Homo sapiens: one gene and its partner. The protein of the gene in region 1 interacts with the protein of each later gene in a pairwise test. Each region holds a gene or a part of one and is shown on either strand. Other genes may lie near its edges. The genes, in order: RNASE6 and ARR3.

Region 1 (3,230 bases):
GGGTCTCCTGGTGCTTTTCTCTTTTTCTTTTTTTGTTTTTGAGATGGGAGTCTCACTCTGTTGCCCAGGCTGGAGTGCAGTGACACAATATTTGCTCACTGCAACTTCTACCTCCTGGGTTCAAGCGATTCTCCTGCCTCAGCCTCCCGAGTAGCTGGGATTACAGGCACTGCCACCACGCCCAGCTACTTTTTTTGTATCTTTAGTAGAGATAGCGTTTCACCATGTTGGCCAGGCTGGTCTTGAACTCCTGACCTCAGACGATCCACCTGCCTCAGCCTCCTAAAGTGCTGGGATTACAGGCGTGAGCCACCACGACAAGCCTAGTGCTTTTTTCTTGATCTATGCTTTCTATTTATCCATTTCAATAAATAATGGAGGATTGACCCTAAGGTTACTACAATGGATTATTATCCCTATTACTACTACTATCACCTTATATTTAAAACATTATCTGATTAAAAACGGAAACAAATAGAAAAGACATAGGATCCTTCAGTTGCCAGTGACAGAATCTATGTGTGAGTTATCATCAACTGTCTTTGAGGTATCAGTACTACCTCCAATTAAGCATAGACAATGGTTTCCAGGGGAATATATAAAGTCATGAGCAGAGTTTGAAGAAATGCTCCAAAGTCCCAAACGCTGTCCTTTCTTGTGGGCAAGGAAGTGGGGCCCCAGGGAGGCCTCAAAAGTTTTCTAGGGACTTAAAGTCAAAACAGTGTTCCTCTGAGTACCGGTCAACAATGCTTTGAAAGCGGATCTCAAACACACACTCATTAGAATGCAGCAGGAAGTGGTTTTATTGCTGTGAACACAGGGCAATAAAGCTTGGCAAAAGTTGCAGGGTTAGAAATCTGAATCTTTCTTTGCTGTCTTCCCTATTCCCTTCTCTCGAAAAGTACAGAACTACAAAGCAGAAAATAATCTTATTTCTTTTTGTCTCAACTCTGGTCTGGCATCCTAGGCACTCGAATTCTCCAAACACCTTTCTTCTTTCTTCTACGGGAACAAGAAAATCAACAAAAGAAAAGAAAACATGGATGCAATTGTAACAGAAGCTATGTCAAATGAAAGGAAATGCAGTGGATGCCTTAGAGAATACTATCTAAGTGTACAGGAACCAACTTGTAGGGGGGATCGCTCTTCTGAGGGGGGTCACAGGCAACAATGAAGAATTTGTACTGGGCAGCAGCACTATAGCGGCACTGGGGATACTTTCCTGAAGTGAGTCTGCAGTCAGTCATGTTGACAGGCTTTGAGCTCTGGTGGCAGTTGTGCCGACGATTTTTGCAGACAATGCTGAGCAAATCACAGACAGCAGCCACATTCTGGAAAGAGTCATGCAGAAAGGTATTTTGATGCTTACAGTGCTGGGTATAATTGTTGATGCCACTCATTGCCCTGTTGCATTGGAGAGGACTTGGCTGTATATGCTGAATTTCAAACCAGTGAGCCTTGGTGAGACGCTTAGGCCAAGCATGAAGTGGACACACTGGTCCCCATAGAACCAGCAGCAGTAAAAGAAGAGGAAAGCATAGCACCATCTTTTCTGTGTAGAAAGAGAGAAGATAGTTATAGTAGGAGAAGCAATAAGAGCAAAATTTTTAATCATAACTATTTAGATTTTTATTTTGCCTTTTAAGATTTTACAGCTCCCTTTAAAATCTTCTTTCTCACATAGTCTCACAATTCTATGAAGAACCTGAAGCCCAGGAAACAGAAATATGACCTCTCCTTTGATTGGCATATCCCATTTTCTTTCACAAGTACTCATGCATTTGATGGCTGTCATATCAGAAAGTTTCTTCCCTCTTCCCTCCTGAAATATTTACCCTCTATCTGACCACTACCTCCCAGCCGTCTTTACTGCTCTACTCGCTCCAGCCCTGAGGCTTTCTTTCTTACCTGGTCTCAGTGTTGGGGCTCCTGCTGAGAACAGAGGCTGTGATTAGTCCAAAGCTCAGAAGCTGTTGTCTGCCTTTCTTCTCTAACCCTTCGAGCCCTGTGTGTATAGGGAAGGGGAAGAAATATTCTGAGCTTTCAGAAGGAGAATCCTAGGGTTTGGCAGATTAACTTCTTGTGCAGAGTCTGGATTAAACTCTTAGACTTTCACACCTGTTCTTTAAAACAGTATCATTATCACATGTATACAGGAAGGCTAAACCAACTTAAAGAAACAACATGACTGAAAACTCACAGTTTTGAGGAACTGATCACTTCCTGATATGGAATGAGTGCTTCCTGCCTCATCTGAGGCTTCAGTGTTTTTTTTTGAAGCTTTATGATTCCTGTTTCTTAAGAGAAAATATGTCACATAAATATGATATAATGCCTGCCACATACTTGGTAATGTTGTAAGTTCCTACAACAGAAGTGAATACATTATTCATTTATGCATATACTTATTGGGCCAGGTACTAGGCTACACAAATTCAGGAGCTCATGAGTTTTTTTTTTTTTTTTTTTTGAGACGGAGTCTTGCTCTGTCGCCCAGGCTGGAGTGCAGTGGTGCGATCTTTGCTCACTGCAAGCTCCACCTCCTGGGTTCATGCCATTCTCCTGCCTCAGCCTCCCGAGTAGCTGGGACTACAGGTGCCTGCCATCACGCCCAGCTAATTTTTTTGTATTTTTAGTAGAGACGGGGTTTCACTGTGTTAGCCAGGATGGTCTCTATCTCCTGACCTCGTGATCTGCCAGGAGCTCATGATTTAATGAAAGAGATTAGAGACAGGCAGGTAAGTATATAGACAAGTAGATTATATTAATATAAATAGCACTTACAGTGTGATGGAGGACACTGCAGGAGGCTACGGGAAGATAGTAGAGGGGAAGGATTGTTGGAGGGCACAACACCTGAACTGAATTTTGAGGAATAATTAGAAGTTAGGTGAAGAGAGTGTTAAGCGCCTCCCAAAGACAGAATTGTGTATGAAAAGACCTGTAAGCCTGAAGAAGAAGGCCGAATTTAGGATATTTGCCTCTTGAATCTGTTCTTACCTTTTCACTGGTACTGCAACACCCTTATTCAGAAACTCATTGTCTTATGGAGGGCTCACATAAAAGCCTCCCACATGGACTCCTTGCCTTGTTTTTTTCTCCTTCCAATCCATTCTACATATTACTTCCAGATTAGTCTTTTTTTGAACAAGATATAATAGTACAACACTCTTGCCCCATGCTTTTATGGCTCCAAATGTCTGCAGAATAAACATAATGTCTGTTTATAG
Region 2 (3,823 bases), on another chromosome or scaffold:
CTGAAAGCTGGGAAGTCTAAGATCAAGGCTCTAGCAGGTTCTGTTGTCTGATGACGGCTGCTCTCTGCTTCCAAGATGGTGCCTTATTGCTGCATCCTCCAGAGGGGAGAAACATTGTGTCCTCACATGGTGGAAGGTGGAAGGGCAAAAGGTCTCCTTTATAAGGGTCTTAATCCCATTCATAAAGGAATTCATGAACAAAGAAGCCCCATGATCTAATCACCTCTTAATGGCCATCTTAATACCATCACAATGACCATCAAGTTTCAACTCCTGAGTTATGGAGAGGCCACATACAAACCATAGGGCATTCTTTGAAGTTCTAGCTCATTTATTTTAACCTTGGTTTAGTATTCCATTATGTGAATATACCACAAATTTTTTATCCATTCTCCTGTTGATAGATTTTTAGATTATCTCCAGTTTTATGTTCTGACAAACGTTGATGCGACGGCCATTATCATATGTATCTCTCCTGAACAAAAGCTCCTTTAAAGTCAACTTATTAGCTCATACTCTACGAGCAGATTTAATTTTACTGGATAATCCCAAATAGTCTTCCAAATTGGTTGCATTAATACTCCCACCAGCAGTATGTAAGAACTCCTTTTGCTCCACATCTTCATCAACACGTAGTGTTGTCACATTTAAAATTTTTTGACAATCTCATGGGTGTGAAATCTTATCTCGTTGTGGTTTTAATTTGCATTTATCTGATTACTCACGAGACTAAACATGTTTTCATATGTTATTGGCCATTCCTTCACACACTTTGCACACTTCTGCAAGGGCCTATTCACATTCTTTGCACAGTTTTATACTGGCATTATTGTTGATGTGTGGGAGTCCTTATATATTTTGGACTCTAAACTTCAGTGTGTTATATGTGTTGCAAAGATTTTCTCCCAGGCTTTCCATTTTTTTCTTTGTTTATAAAGACTTTGAATATAAAGAAGACTTTATAAAGACTTTTAACATAAATTTTACTGCAGTCAAATGTATTAAGAATCTTTTCATTTGTGCCCATAGCCTTCAATCTTTTTTTTTTTTTTTTTTTTTTTTTTTTGAGACAGAGTCTTGCTCTGTTGCCCAGGCTGGAGGGCAGTGACACGATCTCGGCTCACTGCAAGCTCTGCCTCCTGGGTTCACGCCATTCTCCTGCCTCAGCCTCCCAAGTAGCTGGGACTACAGGCGCCCACTACCACCAAGCCAGGCTAATACTTTGTATTTTTTTTTTAGTAGAGATGGGGTTTCACTGTGTTAGCCAGGGTGGTTTCTATCTCCTGACCTCGTGATCCACCCACCTCGGCCTCCCAAAGTGCTGGGATTACAGGCGTGAGCCACCGCGCCCAGCCAGCCTTCGATCATATTACATCACCTCTCTGTGTCTTCTTGACCCAGTTAAGATTCCCCTTCCCACTCAGGCCTGACAGACCACTCTCTTCCTCCTATGCCTGCAGTGTTTGTCATGTTGACATGTGCCTTTCGCTATGGCCGTGATGACTTGGAAGTGATTGGTCTGACGTTCCGAAAAGATCTGTATGTGCAGACCCTGCAAGTGGTCCCAGCTGAATCCAGCAGCCCTCAGGGGCCCCTCACAGTCCTACAGGAGCGACTACTGCACAAGCTAGGGGACAATGCCTACCCCTTTACCCTGCAGGTACTGACCCCAAGCCCTGGGCAGGCAAGGTCTCCAGGGAAGATTAAGAGAGGAAGCTCAAGAAGGACAACAAGGGAGAGGGTTCCCCATTTCTTTTGTATTTGTTTGTATTCTTTTCTACTTCTTTTCTGATCTCCTTTTTGTCCCCTAGATGGTGACCAACCTGCCCTGTTCTGTGACACTGCAGCCAGGTCCTGAAGATGCAGGAAAGGTGAGGACTGGGTTCTAAGAAAGAGGGATAGGTAGTGCCAGGGAAGAGGAACAGTGGGACAGTCAAGACTGGAGAAATGGACAGCTAAGGAAAGAGGTCAGGCATTTTCTTATAGGCCCATGAGGAAGGGAGGACAGCACTGGAAATGAGCTCTCTTTGCCCTTGTCCCTTTACAGCCCTGTGGGATTGACTTTGAAGTGAAGAGTTTCTGTGCTGAAAACCCAGAGGAGACAGTCTCCAAGAGGTATTCTTTGGTTGTCCCCAAAAATCCCTGCCTCCAGCCTCTGCCAGGAAACAGATCCTGCTCTCATGACAGAAATAGCCCCACTTCTAACCTCCACAGCCTCATCGCCACCAGTGACACCCGGTTCTGAGTCCCCTCTGACTTACCTTCTTTGATCTAGGGCAGGGGTCAGCAAACTTTTCTGTAATGGGCCAAAAAAAGAAATATTTGGCTTTTTGAGCCCTATAGTCTCCGTTGCAACTACTCAACTCTGCCGTTGTAGTGCAATCGCAGCCACAGATAGTATAGAAATGAATGAGTGTGGCTGTGTGTCCAATAGAACTTTACTTATGGACACTGAAATTTGAATTTCATGTAATGTCCACATGTCACAAAATAGCATTGTTCTTTGATTTATTTCAACCATTTACAAATGTAATATAACCATTCTCAGCTTGTGGGCCATAGGAAAACAGGCATCAGGCCAGATTTGGCCAGTGGGCCATAGTTTAATAACCTTTGGTCTACATGCTTACATTAAGGGACTAGAGGAGTTCTCTGAGGGAGGCCTTCCCCTGCTCCCATTCTTAAGCAACAATTGGACTATGGGGGTGGCATGGGAGAGGTCTGTGGGTCTGAAAGGAGGACGCTCTGGCTAATCTCTTGGTCTCTGCTCAGAGACTATGTGCGGCTGGTTGTCCGGAAAGTACAATTTGCACCACCGGAGGCAGGCCCTGGCCCCTCAGCCCAGACCATCCGCCGCTTCCTTCTGTCAGCTCAGCCCCTACAACTCCAGGCCTGGATGGACAGGGAGGTTTGTGACCCCCACTTTTTGCCTCCCACCCCAGAACCCCTCTGATGCCCTTTCTTCACTGATTTCCTACTTGGGCAGGCAGAGATGGGAGCCAGGGTGGCAATAGCGCTAAGGAAGCAGGGGTTCTAGGTCTCCATCTGCGTATTCGTCCTCCAGCCTTGACATGGGTCCCCGCTCCTGCTTTAGGTTCACTACCACGGAGAACCCATCTCTGTCAATGTTTCTATCAACAACTGCACCAACAAGGTCATCAAAAAAATCAAGATTTCAGGTGAGTTTCTTTTCCCATCCCTGTGCACCTGGTCCCAAAGCCACAGGTCTTTTCCCAAAATTCTATCTCACTTACCTGTCTGCATTCATCTAGGCTTTCCCTCTAACATGGGCTTGTCAAAATGCATATCTTGTTTTGTCAATGAGCATGTCTCACTGCATCATGTATAGTGTGCCTATGTATAAGGTCACATCTAAGGACACTGAGCTGGGGTCTCAAGGATGACTGACTGATTATAATCATGTGCTTTTCCTGGCTTGTTCAGTTGACCAGATCACAGATGTTGTCCTGTATTCACTAGACAAGTACACCAAGACTGTGTTCATTCAGGAATTCACGTGAGCTGGTGCTGGGGCTAGGACCAGAGAGCCAAGGGGTGGGGTGGTGGGAAGAGGTCCAGGAGGCAGTTGAGGGGGTAGAGTGGGGGAGAAGAGTGGTGGAAGATTCCAGGGAGGGATTCCCAGGAGAACTAGATGGAGGGGATGCAACTTACCCCCAGGAGTCCCATCACGATGCTGAGCGAGGGCAGGGGCATAAGGATTTCCCACCAGAACTAATTTCTCCCAGTCTTCAGTTAAACATGTTACCTCTCTTGGATACTCCAGTAGGTTCTTGTATAATCTTGTACAAGATACTCTTGGGAG

What was found.
Region 2: the proteins of RNASE6 (region 1) and ARR3 interact in a two-hybrid assay, tested with the Homo sapiens proteins (one large-scale study listed by BioGRID and IntAct).

Annotation. Positions count from the first base shown.
Region 1 is NC_000014.9:20,780,017-20,783,246, reverse strand, and holds RNASE6 (ribonuclease K6 precursor), read right to left. Parts: upstream 1,980-3,230; 5' UTR 1,909-1,979; intron 1,553-1,908; 5' UTR 1,548-1,552; coding exon 1,095-1,547; 3' UTR 780-1,094; downstream 1-779. UniProt on the Homo sapiens protein: Ribonuclease which shows a preference for the pyrimidines uridine and cytosine.
Region 2 is NC_000023.11:70,274,622-70,278,444, forward strand, and holds part of ARR3 (arrestin-C), read left to right. Parts: intron 1-1,460; coding exon 1,461-1,660; intron 1,661-1,811; coding exon 1,812-1,871; intron 1,872-2,047; coding exon 2,048-2,115; intron 2,116-2,772; coding exon 2,773-2,908; intron 2,909-3,094; coding exon 3,095-3,179; intron 3,180-3,444; coding exon 3,445-3,517; intron 3,518-3,823. UniProt on the Homo sapiens protein: May play a role in an as yet undefined retina-specific signal transduction. Could bind to photoactivated-phosphorylated red/green opsins.